2 separate regions of the Homo sapiens genome follow, and region 1 is linked to region 2. Evidence: fine-mapped expression QTL. A gene starts in region 2. The other region holds a variant in brackets. All regions are shown on one strand. Distances are from middle to middle.

Region 1 (12,211 bases), 86 kb before region 2:
GAAGTGGAAATCATTGCTAATGAATAGGGGATTTTTTCTTTTTTCTTTCAGATGTGATGAAGATGTTCAGAAATTAGATAGTGGTGATGGCTGCAGAGAAAATTGCAGTTGCAAAAACCACTAACTTGTACATTTGAAATGAGTGAATTCTGTGGTATGTAAATTATATCTCAGTCAATCTGCTACAGAGGCTGGCTGCAATGGCTCACACCTGTAATCCCAGCACTTTGGAAGGCTGAGGTGGGAGGATTGCTTGAGGCCAGGAGTTTGACACCAGCCTGGGCAATAGAACAAAACTCTGTTTGTACAAAAAAAAAAAAAAAAGAAAGAAAAAAGAAAAAGAAAAGCCAACATTAGCCAGCACATGCCTATAGTCCCAGCTACTTGGGGGACTGAGGCTGGAGGAGAGCTTGAGCCTAGGAGTTTGAGACAGTAAGATATGACCACACCACTGTACTCCAGCCTAGGTAATAGAGCAAGATCCTGTCACAAAACAAAACAAAACAAAACAAACAAAATCTGTTAAATAAATAGTATACCCTTTACATAGCCTTAACAAATGTTAACATTTTACACAACCATTGTACAATGATCAAAACCAGAACATTAACATTGATAAAATATTATTTCTATCAATTTCTATAGTTAGTATTTCTTCTTGTAGCTCAGATTTTCTTCCTGGAATAATTCTGGAGTAATTTATTTTTCCTAAATATATTCTTTAGAAGCTCCTTTAGTGAAAATCTGTTGATTCTAAATGCACTTGAAATAATTTTTTTGTTAAATCTGAAAATACTTTTATTCTACCATTTTACTTGAAATGTAGTTCTAGATTGTTATCTCATTTTAGCACTTTGAAGATATTATGCCTTCCATTGCTGTCACTGACAAGTCTGTCAGTCTGATTGTCCTCCTTTTGTAGATGGCCTGCCTTTTCCTTCTGACTTTTAAAACATTCTCTTTGCTTTTTGCTATTATTCAATTTCATTAAAACCACCTAAAATATGAATTTATTTTCTCTCTCCCACTGCTTATTGTATATGTGCTTCAGTACATGTGTCTGTGCATTCATAACCTTTATCAGATATGGCAAATTTTCAGCCACTGTTTCTTAAAAATGGCTTTTTTTCATTCTTTCTGTTCTTACCCTCTCTGACTCTGCTTAGACATATAGTATTCTCTTCTTAATGCCTCTTAATCTCCCTTCAAACTTTTTATCTTTTCTTCCTGTGTTCCATTTTGGTAATTTCTTCAGATCTATCTTCTGATTCATTAAATTTATCTTCAGCACTGTCTAATCTACTCTTTAACCCATGCACTGAGTTTTAAATTCAACAACTGTATCATTCATTTTTAATGATTACAATTTGTTCTCTTTCAAATTTGCCTAGCCATATTTATTAGTTTCTCATTTATTGCTTGTTTTGTAACTCCATTTTTATGCCTTCAAATATTTCATACATAGTTGTTTTATCTCTCATATGTCCTATATCTGAAAGTGCCTTGGCTATCTTTCTCTCTTATATTTGTTTCTGTTTATTCACAGGCTGTAGCCTGTTTACTTTTGTGTTAGGTGACTTTTGATTACAAGCTTACATTTTTGTTGAAAATGGCTTTATATTTTTGAAAAATCTGAGAGACTGTAAACACCTCTATTTTCTTTTCATTTATTTATTTATTTATTTTGAGAGGGAGTCTCACTCTGTCACCCAAACTGGAGTGCAGTGGTGCAATCTCGGCTCACTGCAACCTCTGCTTCCTAGGTTCAAGCAATTCTTCTGCTTCAGCCTCCCAAGTAGCTGGGATTACAGGCGCCCGCCACCATACCTGGCTAATTTTTTACTTTTTTAGTAGAGATGGGGTTTCACCATGTTGGCCAGGCTGGTCTTGAACTCCTGACCTCAGGTCATGTGCCCACCTCAGCCTCCCAAAGCACTGAGATTACAGGCATGAGCCACCGTGCCCGGCCCTACCACTAAGTTAAGTGTATTTGCTTCTGCTAGTTGCCAGAGTTCCTAGCACTGTGGGACCAGTTTGGGCCCTCCACATGTCCCAGCCCTGGTGCTGGGCTCTCAGGTCAGCAGTGTCACTTTACTTGGGCCCACAGCCCAGCTGCCAGCTGCCAGCCCAGCACTGAGGACACTGGTTCTCAGGGCCACCCTGCCTTATTGCTCTTGCTCCACAGAATTCCCTTCTCTGCCTTTTGTTTTTCTGGTGTTGTTTTTGTTTTCAGATCCACTTTCATTTTATTAAAGGCATTACAATTATGTTTGTTGTCATTTATCCTGAATTCAATTGTATTTTAGTTGTATTTTCCTTCACAGAGTCTACTTTACCAGTCTGCTGGATGTAGGAATTGAATCTACCCATTATCAAATATACTAGCATCTATCCCCTTTACTAGGAAGACAATTAACTTAAAAAAAGGTAAATTAATAAATTAGTAAATTTTGTGTTTCAGAGCAGTTTTAGGTTCATAGCAAAATTGAGTGTAAAGTACAGAGTTCCCATGCACCCCTTATGCCCTCTCCCATACAACCTCCTCCACTATCAATATCCCTCACCACAGCGATGTATTTGTTACACTAACAAAGCTACACTGAAACATCATCAAATCACCTAAAGTCCACAGTTCACATTAGAACTCACTGTTGGTGTTATGCGGTCCATGGGTTTTGACAAATGCATAACATCTTGTATCCACCATTGAAGTATCACACAGAATAGTTTCATTGCCCTAAAAATCCTCTGTGCTCTGCCTATTGATCCCTCCCTCCCCCAACTCCTGGCAACCACTGATCTTTTCAGTCTCCATAGTTTTGCCTTTTAGAGAATGTCACATAGTTGGGATCATACAGTACGTAGCCTTTTCAGATTGGCTTCTTTCACTCAGAAATATGCATTTAAGTTTTCTACATGTCTTTTCATGGCTTGATAGCTCGTTTTTTTTAGCACTGAATAAAATTTCATTGTCTGGACTAGTTTATTCATTCACCTACTGAAGAATATCTTGGTTGTTTCCAAGTTTTGGCAATTATGAATAAAGCTGTTATAAATAGCCCTGTACAGATTTTTGTGTGGACACAAGCTTACAGTTCATTTGGGTAAATACCAAAGAGAATGACTGCTGAATGGTATGGTAAGAGTATATTAAATTTTGTAAGAAATTTTCAAACTGTCTTCCAAGGTGGCTGTATCATTTTGCATTCCCACCAGAATGAGAGTTCCTATTGCTCCACATCCTTGTAAGCATTTAGTGTTGTCAGTATTTTGGATTTTGGCTATTCCAATAGGTCTGGAAGTGGTATCTCATGGCTTTAATTTGTAATACCCTAATGACATATGATGTTGAACATCTTTTCCTTTTCTTTTTTTTTTTTTTTTTTTGAGACAGGGTCTCACTCTGTTGCCTAGGCTAGAGTACGGTGGCACAGTCATGACTTGCTGCAACCTTGAACTCTTGGGGTCGAGTGATCCTCCCACCTCAGCCTCTCAGGTAGCCATGACTACAGGTGCACACCACCACATCCAGCTAATAAATTAATTAATTATTTTTATTTTGTAGAGACAGGGTCTCTCTATGTTGTCCAAGCTGGTTTCAAACTCCTGGGTGATCCTCTCGCCTTGGCCTCCTGGAGTGCTGGGATTATAGACATGAGCCACTGGCAACCAGCCAACATCTTTTCATATGTTTACTTACCATCTGTATATTTTCACTGGTGAGGTGCCCAGGTCTTTTTCCCATTTCTAAATTGGGTTGTTCATTTTCTTATTGTTGAGCTATAAGGGTTTTTAAAAATATATTTTGGTTAACAGTCCATTATCGGATGTGTCTTTTGCAAATATTTTCTCCCACTCTGTGGCTTATCTTCTCATTTACTTGACATTGTTTTTGGTAAAGTAGAAGTTATTAATTTTAATGATGTCCAGCTTCTCAATTATTTCTTTCATGGATTGTTCCTTTAGCATTGTATCTGAAACATCAACACCATACCCAAGGTCATTTAGATTTTCTCCTAAGTTAATGCCTACAAGTGTTATAGTTTTATGTTTTACCTTTAGGTCTACAATCCATTCAGAGAACATTTTTGTGAGGGGTGTAAGATCTGTGTCTATTTCATTATTTTGTTTTGTATGTGGATATATCCATTTGTTCCTGCACCATTTGTTGTAAAGACTATCTTTGCTACATTGTATAACCTTTGCTCCTTTATCAAAGATCGGTTGACTATATTTATGTGGGTATATTTCTGGGCTCTCTATTCTAGTCCATCAACCTATTTGCCTATTCTTTTGCCAATGCCATACTTAATTATTACAATAAATAATATCTTAATTATTGTAGCTTTATGGTAAGTCTTGAAGTTGGGTAATGTCAATCTTCTGACTTTATTCCTCTTGTTCAATGTTGTGTTGGTTATTCTGTGTCTTTTGCCTCTCCTTAGAAACTTTAGAACAATTTATCCTTATCTACAAAATGTTACTGAGATTTTGATTGGGATTGTATTGAATCTATGGATCAAGTTGGGAAGAACTGACATCTTGACAATATTGAGTCTTCATATCCATGTACACAAAATATTTCTCCAACTATTAGTTGTTCTTGATGTCTTTTATCAGAGTTTTGCAGTTTTCCTAATATAGATCTTATACATATTTTGTTGTATTTATATCTAAGTATTTCATTTTTGAAGGGTGCTAATGTAAATAGTCCTGTGTTTTAATTTCAAATTTCACTTGTTTATTGGGAGTACATAGGAAAGTGATTAACTTTTCTATATTAACCTTATATCCTGCAACCTTGTTATGATTAATCACTTATTAATTCCAAGAGGCTTTTTTGTTGATTCTTCTGGATTTTCTACATAAATAATTATGTCATCTTCATTTAATCATTATCCAATGCTCTTCTTCTCTTTATATAGATGTGAGTTTCTGACCTATATCACTTATCTTCTCTTTGAAAACTTACTTTAACATTTCTTACAAAGCAGGTCTACTAGCAACAAATTCCCTCAATTTTTGTTTGTCTGAGAAAGTCTTTATTTCTCTTTCACTTTTGAGGAATACTTTTGCAAGGTGCAGAATTCTAAGTTGGTGGGTTTTATTCTCTCAACACTTTAAATATTTCACTCCATGCTCTTCTTGTTGGCATGATTTCTGAGGAGAACCTAGATGTAATTCTTACCTTTGCTTCTCTATAGGTAAGGTTTTTCTCCCCTTTGGCTTCTTTTGAGACTTTTTTTCTTTATCTTTGATTTTTTTGAAGCTTCCATATGACTTGCCTCCTTTTCTTGATTATTTTGTTTTGGCATTTATCTGACTCCATGTTTTCTGAGCTTCTGGAATCTGTGCTTTGATGTTTTACATTAATCTGGGAAAGTTTGCAATCATTATTGCTTTAAATATTGCTTCCATTTCCTTCTCTTTCTTCTTGTTCTGGTATTCCCTTTATGTGTATGTTACATCTTTTGTAGTTGTCCCACAGTTAAGGCTATTCAAAAAAAATTTTTTTAAGTCTTTGTTCTCTTTACTTTTCAGTTTTGGAAGCTTTTATTTATTACATCCTCATGCTACTCTTAGCTCAGCTGTGTCCAGTCTACTAGTGAGCCCACCAAAGACATTCTTTATCTCTGTTACAGTGTTTTTGATCTCTAACAGTTCCTTTTGATTCTTATAATCTCCATATCTCTATTTTCAATATCCATCTGTTCTTGCAGGTTGTCTACTTTTTCCATTAAAATCCTTAGCATATTAATCATAGATTTTTTGGCAAGTATTATCTTGATTCCTAAGCCAGGCAAAGATATCATAAGAAAAAAGAAAACTGCAAGGCTGTAACTCTGACATTCATGCAAAAATTATCGATAAAATATTAGCAATCCAAATTCAACAATACACCAAAAAGATTCTACAGCATGATCAAGTGGGATTTACCCTTAGCATGCAAGACTGGTTTAACATAGGTACGTTAATCAAAGTGACACATCACAGACTGAAAGACAAAACCACATGATCATCTCAATTGACACAAAAAGTATTCAACAAAATCCAACATCCTTTCTTGATAAAAACACTCAACAGTCTGGGTATA[C/T]AAGAAAAGTCCCTCAACATAATAAAGGTCATTTACAAGTGACCTTTGGCTGAGTCCTCTCCCCACCCATGGTGTTTTAAACTCTCAGACTTGTCCCTATGGAGCCTCTAGTAATTTACCAATTACTGTTCAGGTTTCCCTTCCTCACCATTTGTTTCCATGGAGGGTTCTACTTACAGGTTTGCTCCTGTTAAGTTTTGACTCCCTATATTCATCTCTCTCTCTAATTTTGGAGGGCAGCAATTTGCCCTGTGACCTCAGTTTCAACAAATCTAAAAAGAGTTCTTGATTATATTTCAGTTTGTTTGGCTTTTTACTGTTGTTACAATGGAGTGGAGACTTCTAAGCTTCTTACACACTGGAATGGAAACTGGAAGCCTGTCCATTCTTTTTTATTTTTGTGTTTTCCAGGGTTTCTTGTATAACTTTTGAATGTAGCAAGATCTTAAAGACTTTCACAAAATTTGTTGAACATTTTTGGTAATAGCTTATATATATATAAATAAGCACCTTCTAACCATCAGGCACTCTTCTAAGTGTGTTTACATATATAATCTCATTTAAACCTCACAGAAACTCACACATAAATACTGTTTTTATTCCTGTTTTATAGACAAGGAAGCCAAAGCGCAGAGAGTTTAAGTTTCCTCTCCCAAAGGAGCATAGCCAGTGACTGGTGTAACCAGAGCTCAAACTCAAGATATGCAACTTAAGAACATGTTCATAACCACCATACTCTATTAACCAGCTAACTCCTAAAAGTCCTGATCATGTTTTGACTTCATTCAGTCATAAAGAATTCAAATAGCCCAACAGATTGTTTCTCTTTCTAGTTATTTTTGAAACTGCCAATATGATATTTCAATTTACCACCCAAACATCTGAAATTACTGAAAGGAAAATGACTTTTGAGTATGCATCTCCTGTATATCACTGTAAGAAAAGGATTATGTTTTCACGTAGCTTACATAGAAACTAACGTAGTTTACAGAGAAGCTAATTTTTATACAGAAACTACATGAAAACGTAATTCCAGAAACCCAGGAAGGTCTTCCTTCAACCATCAGAGATGCTCCACATTGGCCAAAATGAACCCAGTACTGGAAAAAGACCTCTAGTTCCTATGAATAGAAACAGGCATGCTATTTTCTATGACAAATTAGTACCGAGTCTTACATAAATATGACTTTAATGGTACTAACGTTTTAAGCCAACCTAGGTTGTTCTGATTCCCGTTCTGAACACTGAGGTTCAACATCATTAACAGACAAGCCAAAGATAATCACTATCCCAAGCGCTTTGCCAGCTGCGTGAGTGAACATGCTGTCTGTTTTAGCAGCAGCCACTTTTTGGTGGCATATTTTGTTCTGTTTCTTTATGGAAATATGGTTTATCTATACCACTAAACTCTTTTCTTTTTCTGGCAACCGATTCAGAGTTGAAAAGTTTATGCCAGACACGGTGGCTCACACCTGTAATCCCAGCACTTTGGGAGGCCGAGGCGGGTGGATCACCTGAGGTCAGGAGTTTGAAATCAGCCTGGGCAACATGGTGAAACCCTGTCTCTACTAAAAATACGGAAAAAAAATTAGCCAGGCATGGTGGCATGTGCCTGTAATCTCAGCTACTCAGGAGGCTGAGGCAGGAGAATCACTTGAACCCGGGATGTGGAGGTTGCAGTGAGCCGAGATCGTGCCACTGCATTCCAGCCTGAGCAACAGAGTGAAACTCTGTCTCAAAAAAGAAAAGAAAAGTTTAGAAAATACTGGATTTTGATTTTATTGGAATTCATAGTGGTAAGTTTAGGATACATGGGCAAGAGGGACAGAGAAGTTTAAATATCAAAATGCAGGATCACCTCTAATCAATATATTCTCCTTTATCAGTCAAAACATAAGGAGAGTTTATGTCATCAGGTAAGCTGTTTGTCCCACCTTACCCTCACATGGCTGAGAAAGGAATCATATTCTAGTTAAATTTGTACAGTGAGGCCAGGTGCGGTGGTTCATGCCTGCAATCCTAGCACTTTGGGAGGCCGAGGTGGGCGGATCACCTGAGGTCAGAAGTTTGAGACCAATCTGACCAACACGGAGAAAACTCATCTCTATTAAAAATACAAAATTAGCTGGGCATGGTGGCACATGCCTATAATCCCAGCTACTTGAGAGGCTGAGGCAGGAGAATTGCTTGAACCCAGGAGGTGGAGGTTGCAGTGAGCCAGTCGCACCATTGCACTACAGCTGGGCAACAAGAGCAAAACTCTATCTCAAAAAAAAAAAAAAAAAGTGTGTACAGTGAGAAAATATATCTCCCAAGGGCACAAATAACACATATCAAACTTATCTGCTCTCCTCTCAAAAAAATTCACTCGTTCCATTCCTTAACATCACATTACAGAACATCATCTTTAAGACATGAACGCTAACCTCTTTTTGGTTTAATAAATTTGTGGATAATAAGCACCTAATGGATTATGGACAGGTTTATAGATATATTTTTGATACAGCACTAATCATTCATTCATTCCTGACATCTGCTCCAGGCTGGTGGTGGTATGGGTGTCAGACTGAGAGTCTGCACGTTAGAGTGTGCCATGTACACCTATGGGGGTAAAGACAACGCGTTCTGAGAGCTCAGAGGAGAGGACAAACAGCAGTGCCTTCTGGAGGTCCTCTGAGAAGTCTTGAAGCAGCAAGCACTAAGGGCCACTACATGTCCCCAAGAAAACCAAACACAAGGATGGCTGAAATGCTGGCCTGACCTAGTTAGACTCTTTCTTTCCAAGAAAGTAAGTATTTCATCAAGTTTTGCAGGTTTATAATGGGTTTGTAGACTTGGCATATAATTGGTCTTAAACTATTTTCAACAATGGTTACGTGTCCAACACTGTACTAGAAGCAGGACCCAGAAATGGGCCTCCTAGGTCTGGCATATTCTAAACCACAGTCTAGTTAGGGTGCATTGGCCAGGGACTGCCTGGATAGTATTGCAGATTGTGCACTGAACAATCCTAAGACACACCATTCCTAATATACACATTGTAGAAATGAATATTCAGCATGCCAGCAAATGGCAGTAAAGAGTCTGGTTTTAACTAAGGCAGTATATCAGGACAATTTCTGAAAGATCGAAATAAAGTATCTTGAGGAGAGGATGCCTTTATTCTAATTCATACAAAAATCCTATGGGCTGCCGACTGCCCTGTTTTTTGTTCATTCAAAACAGGATATAGGGAGGAAGTGGATCACTCAGTGGTGGTCTCCCCAGTCATCAGTACAGGCATCCTTCGGAGTTGCCCTAGAGACGATCCCTTGGGCAAAGGCTAACAGCACTGGAGGACCAGAGGAGGAGCTGAGAGCGTAGTACCAGGAAAGAAATAATACACAGGCTGACTTTCCCCATGTCATTTGCTCTTGGTGTCCTCCTTCCCAGTGGGAGTTCCAGGGCCCATGTCTTCTTTGCCTGAACCTCCAGGGCTCCTTTTCTGTGACCTCACTCTCCACTGGCACCTCCACTGGCAGCAAAGGCAGAGCATTTCAACCAGACAGCACAATGGCTTGACTTGACCTACTTCCAAACAGGGACCCTTTCTCATTCATCATTTCAACCTCACACCCTAAGGAGAGACTCAAAACACTGTGATTGGGTAAAGTGAATGAATACAACCATTAGGCAAAATGCATTTTCAGAATAACCAGTTGATTTCATTTATCCCTGACGTCATTGGGATTCATGTAACAAAGCAACACATAAGAGAAATCTGGCTCTTACACACGGCCAGTCATCTTTTTGGCTCTGCAACTCTTCCTTTCTCAAGAAAGGATGAGAAGTGGTGTGTGCCAAAGGGAATTTCATTTTAAGGAATAATCAGGGGAAAGTGGTTAAATTATTTTATTTTATTTTTATTTTTTTGAGACAGAGTTTTTGCTCTGTTGCCCAGGCTGGAGTGCAATGTTGCGATCTTGGCTCACTGCAACCTCTGCCTCCCGGGTTCAAGTGATTCTCACGCCTCAACCTCCCAAGTAGCTGGGATTACAGGCACCCGCCACCATGTCCAGCTAGTTTTTGTATTTTTTAGTAGAGAGAAGGTTTCACCATGTTGGCCAGGCTGGTCTCAAAATCTTGACCTCAGGTGATCCACCCGCCTCAGGCTCCCAAAGCACTGGGATTACAGGTATAAGTCACCACAACGGCAAAAGTGGTTAAATTAAAAGGAACAATATAAAACTTTGAATTGGAATCAAACAAAGAAAGGGGCTGTTATTTATGCTAATGACACATCATAAAAGTTAAAAAAAAAAAAAAGGCAGGACTCAAATTACAAATCACTTCTGCTCTGGGTAATCTGAAAGTTCCTAAAATAGTAACTGAAGTAGCTCTCTTACCTTATAATTATTCATGATTTCAGTTAACCATGGCTTAACTGACTGTACTGTATCTTCTCGCAAGTACTTTTCAACTATAGTTCCATCATTAAAAGTCTGATTCCCCACGTGGATGGCTTGTCTCACCTCTGGGAGTGACAAAAATTTCACATAGTAAAGCTGATCCTCAGGTTCCTGGCAGAAGGGGCATTGGAAAGACATAGGGAACATGATTGGTGGCAGGAACAGTATGTTGGGAAAAGCTGTGAATTTCTCATAACATACAACATGGAGAAACGTGACGGGACTATTAACTTGTCGCCATTCTTGAAATTTTAACTCGGAGGTTTTGAGATAATTTAGGTGGAATCTTTTTACTAATTAGAAATCTGAAATACCCTTAAAATACTCTTAAAATACCCAATTTGCAAATACAGGATTTTCCTTTGCAGAAACTAATCTTTTGCAATCTGTGACTCCCATTAGCAACCCCACTAGAGGCAAAGAGAGAGAAAACAAAAGAGATGAGATTATCAAAATCAATTCACTCCTTGTTGGTGGCTCTTTGGAAAGAAGGTCAAATGGATCACAAGGGCCAGGTTGGTGGTGTGCTGGATTTAAAGCTAAGAATTTCTTTTCTGTGTTCTGCTGTTTATTAAAACCACACACATGTATACATGTGCCATGTTGGTGTGCTGCACTTATTAACTCGTCATTTAGCATCAGGTATATCTCCTAATGCTATCCCTCCCCCCTACCCCCACCCCACAACAGTCCCCGGTGTGTGATGTTCCCCATCCTGTGTCCATGTGTATACATATGTAACAAACCTGCACGTTGTGCACATGTACCCTAAAACTTAAAGTATAATAATAATAAAATTAAAAAATAAAAAAAACCGCACACACACACAAAATTGGATTGACTATAATAAAGGGGAAAATATGTCAAATGTGAAAAGAGATGATACTTTATGAAGGACACAAGACAGAAGAAAAGTTGTCCATGAAGCTTATTAAAAAAAAAACTGCAATAAAGTCTCTGTAATAATCATTATACTGAAAGAAAGGAGTAAATGCTTTAAAAAAAAAACAGTTACACAAGGATTAAAAAAACTGTTAAAGTTTGAGTTTGACAACTTTGTGCTTCATCAACAATTTTTACTAACTGTGAATATATTGTTGTAAAGAAAAAAAGGTATCATCACAAATTTTGTTTCTGTCTTGTCTACCACATGTTTTTCTCTTAGTAGAATCTAAATCCAAAACTGCAGCATTGGCGAATTCCACTGAAACTAACGTTATACTTTATTTACAAACTAGTTCATAAATCAGGCAATTTTAAAAACAGAATGCATTGTCATAAGCATTAGACAAAGATTATACAAATTCAAACACCTACTTTGGCTCCTTCTGTTTGACTAATTCTACACAAAAGATATCAACTTTGGCCTACTTTTATGAAACAAACTACTTGAATACTTTGAGAAATATTCCAGAAGGCTTGAAGTGAGGGCCATACTAAATGCATTAAACATCTTAAAAGTAAGACAAAGCAAATATTTTCATTAAGGCTTTGGCAGTTTTGATTATCCAAGCGTCTTAAGTACAGAACAAAGAATGTGGGCATTTTCAAGAGACTCGTAAACAGACTTGAAGCTCTGGGACCTGAGACCCAGAACTCCAATCCCAGCCTGTGTCCTTCACAAAAGTGCCTCTATAACAAGCTCTACTTGGGGGAAATCATGTTCATC
Region 2 (12,211 bases):
CTGCACATGACTCAGAATGGCTTCATCTTTATTTCACGTTCTACATTTCTTGTTGCTTGACTTAGGAGCATATGAGCTTTTCCCTAGCCAGGCCTTTCCCTGCAACCTACCTACCCTCCCTCAGCACTAAACAATCACATTTCTTGATCCATTCAAACATGCAGGCCTCGGCTGGACACAGTGGCTCACACTTGTAATCCCGGCACTTTAGGAGGCCGAGGCAGGAGGATTATTTGAGCCTAGGAGTTCAAGACCAGCCTACGCAATGTGGCAAGACCCTGTCTCACATCAAACAAACAAACAAACAGGCTTCTACCCACACTCTTCTATACAAATAGTTTTCTCTCCTTTAACAGAACTCAACTCTTCAGAGATTTTCTAACCATACAGTAAAGGGTGAGACACTTTGCTAAAACTTGTGGAGTAGTTAAAGATGAAAAGGGGACAGTATCCACCTTCAAGGAGCCCTCATTCTAGCAAAGAGAGACATGCATGAAAACCAGTAAACCCTAAATACTGTCATAAAGCATGAGGAATGCAGTTCTGTGCCCCACTACAAATAAACACTGCACTTAGTAAAGTCCTCACTGGAGGAAGACCCCATTCACAATGCAAATCCTATTACTCACTATACAACTTGCTACTTCTAACTTTGGGAAAAAAGCATTGAGGAAGCAGCATAATTCTCAGGGCTTCCATAGTCAACTGGGGGTAATCTTGCTCCAGGCTACACATTCTATCGCACCCTCTCTCCAAAGACTCCCCAGGGAAGGAAAATAAGAAAAAAGCAAAAAGTGACCTTAGACAGGCACAACTGTGGGACAATGAGGGAAGGCAGAAGATTGATGGGGTAAAACAAATGCATAAGTGAAAATAGAGCTTTTCTCCACTTCACCCTTAAATAAGCCAGGATTTTAGGTATGATCTTAAGGAGAATGAATGAAGTGATTGTTGAACTCAGGGAAGTAGGAAGGTTGCATGACCTTTGTACCAGCTTTAGGGGCTGGCATTTCTGAGAGAGGCTGGCCCTTCCTGTAGAGTTCAAGAAGTTGGGTGAAAACAAGGCACAATCAGAGGGCAGACATCCTGCCAATTGTGCAACAACCAATTGTGCAATGTGCTTTGAGCTTCCCTGCTGATCACCTTCTCAAAACAGAGGGGCCACAGTAAGGAGCCTACATGTGCAAACGCCTAACACAGTACCTAGCATACAGTCAGTAGCATATAGGAAGGCAATGCAGTCCGGTGGGAATAGCATGAAAGATTTAAAGTATGCCCTCAGACCGGGCACGGTGGCTGATGCCTGTAATCCCAACAATTTGGGAGGCTGAGGTGGGCGGATCATGAGGTCAGGAGTTGGAGACCAGCCTGGCCAACATAGTGAAACCCCGTCTCTACTAAAAATACAAAACTTAGCTGGGCATGGTAGCACATGCCTGTAGTCCCAGCTACTTGGGAAGGTGAGGCAAGAGAATCGCTTTTACCCAGGAGGCGGAGGTTGCAGTGAGCCAAGATCGCCCCACTGCACTCCAGCCTGGGCGACAGGGTGAAACTCCATTTCAAAAAATAAAAATAAAAAATAAAAAAACAAAGTATGCCTTCACAGCTTCAAATGTGGCTTCTGCCACTTAAAAACTCTGTACCTTGGCCGGGCGTTGTGGCTCACGCCTGTAATCCCAGCACTTTGGGAAGCTAAGGCAGGCGGATCATGAGGTCAGGAGATGGAGACCATCCTGGCCAACGTGGTAAAACCCTGTCTCTACTAAACATATAAAAATTAGCCAGGCGTGGGGGTACACGCCTGTAGTCCCAGCTACTCAGGAGGCTGAGGCAGGAGAATCACTTGAACCCAGGAGGCAGAGGTTGCAGTGAGCTGAGATTGTGCCACCGCACTCCAGCCTAGGCAACAGAGTGAGACACCATCTCAAAAAAAAAAAAAGTAGCTGTTGCCTTGTGAAAAGATAGACAAGTTCATTAAATTACCTGGCTTCTGATCTGCAAGTGGGTTACCTGGAAAAAGCGTTGTATGCTCTAAAAGTCCTAGATAAAAAAATTTATTTAACTTTCTCTTCTTCTTTCCTCTGCCTCACCTTACCCCCTGAACTTCCCAGAATGGGAAAAGGAAAGACTTACTTCACTTTACTAGTGCAGATATGGTCTTTTAGTTAGGAACTGTGGTCAATTATTAATGAGAACTGCAGCTATAGTAACACTGTAGATAAACAGGCATTAAAATACTAACAGATCATTGAACACCTGTATTTATTTTTTGCTCCAAGGACTCCATATATTCAGATTTTCTTCAAGATCTTATCCTTTTTTCTCTTTCCGTACATTCCCATTCAACCACCCCTTGAGTATTAATCACTAGTCCAAATGTTTGTTCAGTCCTGACATTGCTATTGGGCATTTCAGGACAGTATCACCACTGTCAGCTGTCACCTCCAAAAGGATAACCAATCAGCCCCTCAAACCCACTGACTCTATAACAGGACGTCATCATTCTCCTCAAACTTCCTCCTTCTATGACTTCCAGATACTTTTTTTTTTTTTTTTGAGACACAGTCTTGCTCTGTTGCCCAGGCTGGAGTGTAGTGGTGCAATCTCGGTTCACTGGAGCCTCTGCTGCCGGGTTGCAGCGATTCTCCCGCCTCAGCCTCCTGAGTAGTTGGGATTACAGGCATGCACCACCACGCCTGGTTAATTTTTGTATTTTTAGTAGACACAGGGTTTCACCATGTTGGCCAGGCTGGTCTCAAACTCCTGACCTCAGGTGATCTGCCCGCCTCAGCCTCCCAAAGTGCTGGGATTACAAGCATGAGCCACCATGCCCAGCGACTTCCAGATTCTTAATGATGCTCCCTTATAATTGCAGATGCCTGAGTTCTAAAACCAGAAGTCCTCAAGTCAAATCTGTCACCAAGTGCTATTCTACTTCCTTTTTTCTCCATTCTATCCACAGTTCAACCCTTACTTGCCCCGAGACATTTACAAAGCTTCCTAACACATCTCTCAGACTTCCGGTCCTTTTCCCTCCAATTTAGCCTAACACTGATGCTTCAGTGAGCTTTCTAAAACACAAGGCACTCCATTCCTCCCATGCCTTCAATGGCTCCCACCTGCAACCAGGAAAAAGTATAAACTTTCTACGATGAAATTTAATGTCCTCCATGATACAACTTCAACATAACTTTTCAAACCAAAGTTACATGATTCCTTCACAAACTCTTAGCCTATGCTCCGCCAAATCAAAACTCTCCTTGTTCCCTAACCCTACCCTGCCTTTTATGTTTTTACAGCTTTGCTGAGCAAACCTCCAGGCAAACAGTAGGAACTAATCAATGCCAGTTGATTAATCAATTGAAATCAATACCCTGGCTTCTAATCAATAATAGAATCTAGGTAGATTCTAGATTGCAAAATTCTTTTGACTTTTCTGAAAGTTTAAACCTTTTCATAATCAAACACTGGGAAAAAATTAGTTAAATGAATAAATAAATGAGAAAATGAATCGCTTGGGACCTGGGTTACATTCTCTCCCAAGAATCATACAGTACAAAAAGATATGTGGCACTATCTTTTTGAAAGAGGGGTAATGGGATACAGAGTCCCAAAAAGGAAAGGAGGAAGAGCTTACCTTTAGGGTTCAAAGTAAATATTTTGGCCTGTAAACAATTCTAAGCAATTTAAAGACAACCAATAACTAGAATCAGACTAGAGAGAAAAAGGTAGGAGGTAAGTTCCAACTATATTGGAAAGATAAGCTGCTAAGAATTTGCTTTTTCAGGCTCCAAGATCTAAGGACACAGTCCTTCCCCCTCTTTCACTACCACCACCCTGTCCTGCACCCCAGGGTCTGAGTTAAAGCAATGAAAGCATGTGATTTCATGTTCAAGGTTATACCTCTAATATCTCTTAAGGGAGAGCAATCTCAATACCCTGGTTTCAGTTCAGATACGCTGTAACAGCTGTCTTGTGAACTGTCTATTAAGGCTTACATCTTTGAGCTTGCAAATATAGTATAAAAGTTCAAACTCCACTACTGTTTTTACCAGGAAAGTACAGTTCTTAGCTTTTTGCCCAGCTTACCTCTCTCACAAGTCAATATAGACGTTAATGAGTCATTGTTCTAGAGGTATCTTTCTAATTCTGAGAAGCTTGCCTACTTCTTTTAAATGTTCTTAGTTCAGTCAATGAAAATCTCACATTATAAAGCCATCGGAAATGGTAAACTAAAACAATCATGTTTGCTCTTTAGTGAACCATACTTCCTATTAAGAAGGGGTCACTGGCCAGGCACAGTGGCTCATGCCTGTAATCCCAGCACTTTGGAAGGCCGAGGTGGGAGGATCACTTGAGGTCAGGAGTTCGAGACCAGCCTGGGCAACATGGCAAAACCCCATCTCTACCAAAGATACAAAAATTAGCCGGGCATGGTGGTGTACACCTGTAATTCCAGCTACTCAGGAGGCTGAGGCACAAGAATCCCTTGAACCCGGGAGATGGAGGTTGCAGTGAGCAGAGATGGTGCCACTCCAGCTTGGGTGACAAAGTGAGACTCTTGTCTCAAAAAAAGAAAGAATGGGTCATTACTATTTACCTTGAGTATTTGGGTGCTAATAAACAGATATCTGATGATACCTGGGGCAAGAACTGAGTTCCTCCCCTCTCATTGCCTTAGTTCTGTGCATCCCAGGGTAGTATTCAACACTCAGTGTTTCCTCTGACAAACTAGATGCTTCCCAAAACAAAAACAAACTCATTTTTAGAATTCTGTTATATTATTTGCTTCTTGTTTTTATTTTTTGTGGGGAGTGAACTGGTAAACCCAGTGGACTTTCTTAACACTCTTCTAAGTCATTCAAACTGTCAGTCAAAACCCACCTATTTCTCAGGCTAGTAGAATCCCACTATAAAGTGATTTATAAACTGGATTTATATAAATTGGGGGATCAATTGCCCCTCCCAAACAATCATCTCCTATAAAAGATTAATAAAACAACATCTGGTTAAGAACACTGACACTACATTATAAAGGGTTGCCCCTGTACTTAGACTAGCATGAGGTACACATCTAGAATGCCCAGTTAGCCAAACGGTCTTGACGACCATGCAGACTTTCATATGCCAACAAAGCCGGTGCAGTGTACTTTTCCAAAAGTGCTCCAATTCTCCTTTTGGACAACTTTCTTAAACGTTATTTACCAAGCTAATAAAATGTATTCTCAATGGACTTTTTACTCTGCTTACATCTTTGTTCTTACTCATCCCAAAGCAAAGAATGGAAAAAAAATGAGTTGTACATTTAGCCGGGGAAGGGAAAGGCAAGTACTGAGGGGCTCCTTTTTCATTTACTGATGCCAAAACTGAGGCTGTGGAAGATAAGTTACGTCCCTGATGTCATCCAAGTAGTGGATACCGGAACCAGGAATTGCACAGAATTGTCCAGCTCCAAAACCCAAGCACCTTGCTTGGGACCCACTGGGGTTGCAGTGAAGGTGGGGGGCTCAGAGGTGACTGCACACGGGTCATGCATAGCCACAGTCATTATATGGCCAGAGTTTTAAACATTATTTTGTTCTGTCTTCACCATAGACTTCATCATCAATCATAACTGATAAGGAAAATTACACTTAGCTGAAAAGCCAAGTCCCGTGCTAGGGAGGCATTTTCTGTATGTTATTTCTATTTCCAATAAAACAATTCTTTAAAAAGAAAAACTTATTATCTCCATCTTTCAGATGGAAAGACTGAGGTTTAGTAGGCTTAAATAATTTGCCCGAGGTCACTCACTAGCCAAGGCCAGAACTGGGATTTAAATCCACAAATATTCCAAAGTCCTTTTGTTTCTGTATCACTTCACAGGGAGCTGCTTCCACCTGTCTCCTGTGCCCTTGGTTTCTGCTAATCCTACATTCCAAGAATAAAAGTCTTCCTATGCGTTCCTAGGCAGAAGCCAAGTTTCCCTGCTTTGGGCACGTTCAAAATAGAAGGTATTTTCCGCTTCTCTTGCTTCTGAGCACCCACGAAATCAACACATCCCCAAAACACGCGTTGAGGGAGTAAGGGAAAGTGTCCTGCACCCGCCACCCTCCCGCGCTAAGAGCGGCAGAGGACCCCACAGCTTCGTACTTCCCCGGAGGAGCTCCTGGAGTAGGAGACGGCTTCTAGCCTGGAAGAACCCCGGGTGCGACAGTTGTGCCAGGAAACTTCAAGAGTATTCCCTCGGCTGGGCGCACGCAGTACATCCCCAATGCTCCAATTTGAACTTTGACTCGGCCACGACCACCCCACTCCAGTCTCACTCTACGGTGCTTTCTCCCCTGTTGGTGCTGAGGGCTTTTGAGACTACCTGCCCCGCGCTCCCTAAGTCCGAGGGACCGAGGCGAGGACCTGTCCCGCTGAGCTGGCACGACCCACGCAGGGCAGGCGGCACTTACGCGGCGCAGTCGGTGCTCCTCCCTGAGCCGCGGCGCGCAAGGACCCCAGCCGGTTGTCCTTGCAGCGCTTCCCAAATCAGGCAGAAGTGAGGCAGCCCCACCCAGTCACGAGGACCCTGCAGAACTCGAGCCTTTAAGCGCTCCTCTAGGCTCACATGACCCAGACCCACAGGGCAAAAAGTGCGTCGTCGTGTCCCAACCTCCTGGTCCCAGAAACCTGGCCGCATCAAGTCAGCGCTTCCCATGCTGGAAGAAGCAAGCAGCCCCAGGGTGGAATCTTAAAAATTAATGAAGAGCATCGGCGGGGTGCCATTCAGGTTGGTTTGTCCCTTTGTTTTATTTTGATTTTGTCTCCCAGTTTTTAAAAGCTGCTATCTTAAAATTTCAACCCTGTATTTTGAAATTATTTCTGCACTCTAGGACTTACTTGCAAGCCCAGGATTTACATTTGGAAAGCGAGTGGTGTTTGATTCCCACTGTTTAAAAAGGCAACACACGTTCGCTGATGGTCTACATTCCAGCTGCACTAGCAGTAAGCTCGCACCAAGTGCCACTGTCCTGCCAAGCACTCTCCTGAATCACTGCGCTGGAGTCTCAGAGCCACCTGATGTGTTCTGTACCATTATACCCATTTTGCAATTGGGGGACACAAACTAAGTGAGGTTAAGTAACCCATCCAGGGTCACATTGCTTGTAAGTGACCTGAGTGTATATTATTAGCCACCACCAGGTGCTGGGCATCGAGCCAGACAGTACGGGAGCAAGAACTAAAAAAGGCAAGGAGGTTGCAATGGCAAGTAGATAACACAAAATAAAGGAGGGTCATCATTATCAGCAACAGCAGCGTCAACTGCCAGACAGGTGGGAGAGGCCACGGGGAATCTTCTGCACTGTCCCGGGCCAACCTCCATCTCCTCACAGCTAGCTGCAGGAGTGAGCCCAGGGAAACCCGCAGTAGAGCAGCCCAGCCAACCCGACAGTCAGGGGGAAAAATTGTTTTAAGCCACTTTCAGTTTCGCGTAGTTTGTTATGCAACTAAGGCTAACTAAAGCACTAGTTTTACGAGCTGGAACAAACTAATGTCACTGAATATCTGTTTTCTCCTAAGTACCTACTTTATTGGGTTGTTGTGAGGACTCACTGAAAAACTATGTGTAAATCACCCAGCACAAAGTATGTGCTCAGTGACTGCAGTCATTCTTTGCTATCATACCTTCCATATGGAAGTACTTCCTACCCACCTAGCTCTTTAAGGAGAAAAATCTGTTTGTGGGAAAATAATTCTTTTAAGGCCAAAATCAGCCCACCTTTAATATATGCAGGACCCAGGGCAAAAGTACAAACAGAGATCTGTAGGCCAGATACCTAAATATTTAAAAGTTATAAACAAAGTTAACAAATGATTAAGTACAATAAGTTCTACCTTCCTACCTAGACAAATATACCTTGGGAATTGACATGAAAGGCCAGATTGAAACTTTGGATGATCTGCACTTAAATATGATGGTGCAGGGAGAGGCGATTTCCAGTTCCTGGTTTGCAGCCACCTCCTCTCTTCCCACAGGGCTCTAGTCCATTGGTGGAAGCTCGGTCAAGCTTCCCAGAAGCAGCTGTCCCCCAGCCACCTCTTGGGCACAAGAGTATGAACACCAGAGTCAGCAATGTTCGCCCATGGGAGTACAGACATTAGCAGATAACACTGCTGCTGGCGTGCAGACCCTTGAAGCAGGCTCAGTGCCATTTGGGGAGGGAATTTGGAATTTGCCTTCTAAAGTGTGGGCCCTGGACAAGGGCTCCTTGGGTCTAAGTATAAGGACAACTACTGGCCAAAGAATACCTGTGCCCACGTGGAACCACTTAAAAACTAAACTGAATTTTACAGTAAACACAGGAGGAGCCATGCTGTAAGCATATTTATTCAAAAACAGGGTGTCCCAAAAGTCTTCCTGCAGTTTTAGTAACCTCAAGGCTATAAATGCTGCAACTTATAAGAACACCATTTGAAAGTTAATTTAACACTATTTATCTCTGTGAATGTTGAATAACACGTTTTAACTTTAATTTTTGTTTCAGTTCCCCTGAGTGAAATATGGCATACATTAACCAGAAGAGAAAATTACATTTATTAAAATAATTAAAACAGAGTCAAAAGAAGTAAACGTTCAAATGAGTTTTGTAAGTTTGTAGCATTTCGACTTAAGAAGTTATTAAAGCTTAAAACTGCACTGACCTTTTTGGGGTACCCTGTATTCGGATTTGTCGTGTGTCAGGTTCTGTGCTAGACACTTGATTAAAAAGAAAAAACAAGAAAAAAGATAGTCTTCTTTAGGGAACTTGAAGTTTAGTTGTGGGGAAGGGATGAAGGGGACACACAGATTGATCCCATCATACAATATAAGAGCTGTAATTGGGGCTGATAAAGTGTGTGTGTGGGGGAACAGAGGACAGGGACCAAATGACTCTGCCCGAAGAGCCAGGGGAATCCTGTCAGAGGAGGTGACTTGAAGCTAGACATTAAAAAATGAATAGCCACTGAGGGGAAAGGTGGCAGCACAGGCAATGAGCAGGCCACCTGCACTCAGGTTGATGCTGTGCTCTTGGACAGATGGACTGTGCGACACCAGGCGTGTTCAGGGTGGGTCGGGGGTTAACTAATACTGAGGTTAGAAAATTAGACTGGAGCCAGCTTGGAAAGGGCAAGAATGCTGAGCTCTAGAGACTGATGTTGTTCAAAATTAGTAGATTGGGAAGTCTGTTTCCCTTTTTTTTTTTTTTTTTTTTTGAGACAGAGTCTTACTGTGCCGCCCAGGCTGGACTGCAATGTCGCAATCTCAGCTCACTGCAACCTCCACCTCCCGGGTTCAAGCGATTCCCTGCTTCAGCCCCCCGAGTAAGCTGGGACTACAAGCACCCGCCACCACAGCCAGCTAATTTTTTGTATTTGTAGTAGACACGGGGTTTCACCATATTGGCCAGGCTGGTCTCGAACTCCTGACCGCAAGTTATCCACCTGCCTTGGCCTCCCAAAGTGCTGGGATTACAGGTGTAAGCCACCGTGCCCAGCCTGGAAATCCATTTTCTTAATGAAAGAGAATAAAATAGAACAAAATAGTACAGAACAGAATAGAACCATAGGACAGGAGTATGTGCTTTCCAGGGAGGTTGTAACTGAGCAGCTATTAACAGTAGAAATTTATTGTCTCATAGTTCTGGAGGCTACAAGTCTGAAATTAAAGTGCCAGCAGGGCCAGGTTCCCTCTGAAACCTGGAGGGGAAGGATCCTTCCTCGCTGCTTCTAGGTTCTGGTAGCCCCAGGTGTTCCTTGGCTTGTGGCAGCATCAACCCAATCTCTGCTTCAGCCTTCCAGGGCTTTCTCTCTGTGTCTTTTCACAGTGTCTCCCCTCCATGTGTCTGTCTCTGTGTCCCAATTTCACCTATTTATGAGGACACCAATGACATTGGATTAGGGTCCACTCTAATGACCTCATTTTAGCTTGATTACTTCTATGAAGACTCATTTTCAAAATAAGGCCACTTCACTGCTGCAATAGATATTTTTAGCCCTTCTCTTGTATTGAGAATATTCAAAGGTTGGCCAACAAATCGGTTTGCAAAGAGATTCGTTAAGCCTTCTTTGATTGGCTTTCCTGAAAACAAGATTTAAAACTGTCAGGTCGATCACAAGCCCTTGTGTTCTCTGCACCTGCATATTCTAGTGAGGTTTGGGTTTGTTAAGCCCTAGTGGTTCAGAGCATGGGTCAGACTCAGTTTGAATCTAGAACCTTGCACCTAATGACCATAAGCAAGTTACTTAATCTCAGTTTTCTCATCTGTACATGATAAAAATACTATTAGCTATCTTGCGGTATTATCAAGAGGAAGAAATAAGATAGTAGTACATATAAAGTGCTTGTCATATATAAAGGCTCAAAAAATGGCAGCTGTAACAATAATAATGGTGATCATGACAATCAAGATTCTAGGCTGTGACTGCAGTTCTTTCCAACTGTCTATCCAAGACAACTAAATTGTATCTGGACACCACACAAAAACATGCTTCTCACTGACCTATAGCCGGAGCTTTGCTGAACTCCTTAAATTCCAGTTAAGAAGACACAGAGAATAGATCATTTACACATCTTGATCAGGTAAATACAATTCCAATTGTCTAAGTTTGTAGGTCTGATTTTACATTTGCAGCTGCTGCCAGCAAGATAAATGTGGAGCTGCAATGGAAACAAGGGGAATTGATTAACCTTGTAGGCAATCATGCCCCTCTTGGAAGTGTCTAGGTCTCTCCCTGCACTTGTCAAGGCTTCTATAGCCATTGTTCCTTTTCAGTGTTGTTACTGATCTTCAATGGGGCCACCGGGTAGCCTGGAAACACAGCTCAGAGGCACAGCGAAAAGAGAAATGTCACAGCCCCCATGCACCACAATTAATTGTTCAATAAACACTTTTCTTAAGGAACGAAGCCAGATGTGTCACACCCACACACTTGCAAAACAACACTGTGCTATTAAAAAAGGGAGGGGTGGGTGGTAGATCCAGCTGAAGAAAGTCTACAGCTGTTCTGCACCTCAGCTATAAGCATTGAAGGCTTCATTAAGTGAGAAGTAGGCCCAGGTGGCGGTAACCAAGCTCTAAGACACAGACACATGCCCTGATCAACTTATTGAAGTGCTTCAGTCTCCTTGTACTTGGTAAGGAAGGGGCACCTCCTAAGACTAGCCACAGGCTACAGACTCCAGGGAAGTTGTGGATAATTACATGGTAATTATTTCTAATAAGTGCTTCCACTCTTAGCATGATTATCCTTCCCTGGGTTGCTTGCCTCCTTATGCCTGGTTTATGTAGGGAAACAATGTCCAAATTAATCTACGTCTTTTGTAAGTGAGCCTATACTCCTTTGACGATCCAGATGGTTTAGCGCCCTTTAGCAGCAGGTGTTAAGGCTTTCTTACAAAAGGCATATTTTCAGTTTCCCTTCGGCTATGGAAAAAGCCAGGCAAATAAGACTTCGGTGATTTAAGGATAAATTATGGGATTAATATAGACATGGCCACTAAGGACAGCTGAGCAAGCCCTGTGTAAAACCAAGAGAAATAATCATAGTGAAACTTTGTAAGGATTTTATGGTTTGCCCAACACTTTTTATATATATCATCTCTTTTAATTTTCACATCAGCCCTGCGAGGTATATATTGATATTATGATGAACCTGCCAGTGTGCTCAGGATAGTATCTGATTAAGGGCATGGCCTTAGGAGTAGACCGATGGCATCTGAATCCCAGCTCAGCCACTCATTAGCTGTGTGACCTTTGCTGTGTTAATTAACCTCTCTAAGCCTTAGCCTTCTCATGTATGGGAAGAGAACACCACCAATCCTACAAGGCTGATCTGAGGATTTGACGAAATTGTATGTATAGCCATCAACACAATGTCTGGCCCATAGCAAGCAGGTCATTCACTGGTTGAAGGAAAGACATTTGCAAAGGACAAACAGATAGTAAACAAACTCCCTTAGGTGAAGTAGTATTTGGAGTCTCCTCTTTTTCTCTTGTTTAGGTTTTATTTTATTTTCTTCGAATGGAAATAGTGGTTAGTGCAGGTGCTCTGCTTACTCATATTGTGCCTATGAAGAGTTGCATGATCCAAAGTGGGTTATCTAGAAAAGTGACTCTATAGCCTCTGAAGGGTTTTCCAGAACTTCAAGAACTAGGTCACATCACCAAATAAAGGAATACAAGTAAAATGGGCAAAAGGTATT

Which allele goes with the higher level. Alleles are on the strand shown, and positions count from the first base shown. SD is a standard deviation of normalised expression in the study named.
With allele C in place of T in region 1, the expression in fetal neocortex of the gene that starts at base 6,549 in region 2 is lower (small effect, 0.31 SD a copy in Walker 2019).

Evidence for each region.
Region 1: its variant is fine-mapped to the expression of CPVL in fetal neocortex (Walker 2019, PIP 0.93).

Annotation. Positions count from the first base shown.
Region 1 is chr7:29,053,582-29,065,792 of GRCh38, forward strand. CPVL (carboxypeptidase vitellogenic like) reads right to left here. Exons shown (of 13, transcript NM_031311.5): 11 at 10,480-10,653. Among named protein-coding and RNA genes, the nearest start is that of CPVL-AS1, 21 kb to the right of the region's middle. The variant C/T (reference allele first, on the strand shown) is at 6,095.
Region 2 is chr7:29,139,989-29,152,199 of GRCh38, forward strand. CPVL (carboxypeptidase vitellogenic like) reads right to left here and starts at 6,549. Exons shown (of 13, transcript NM_031311.5): 1 at 6,441-6,549. It also overlaps a transcript of CHN2 not described here.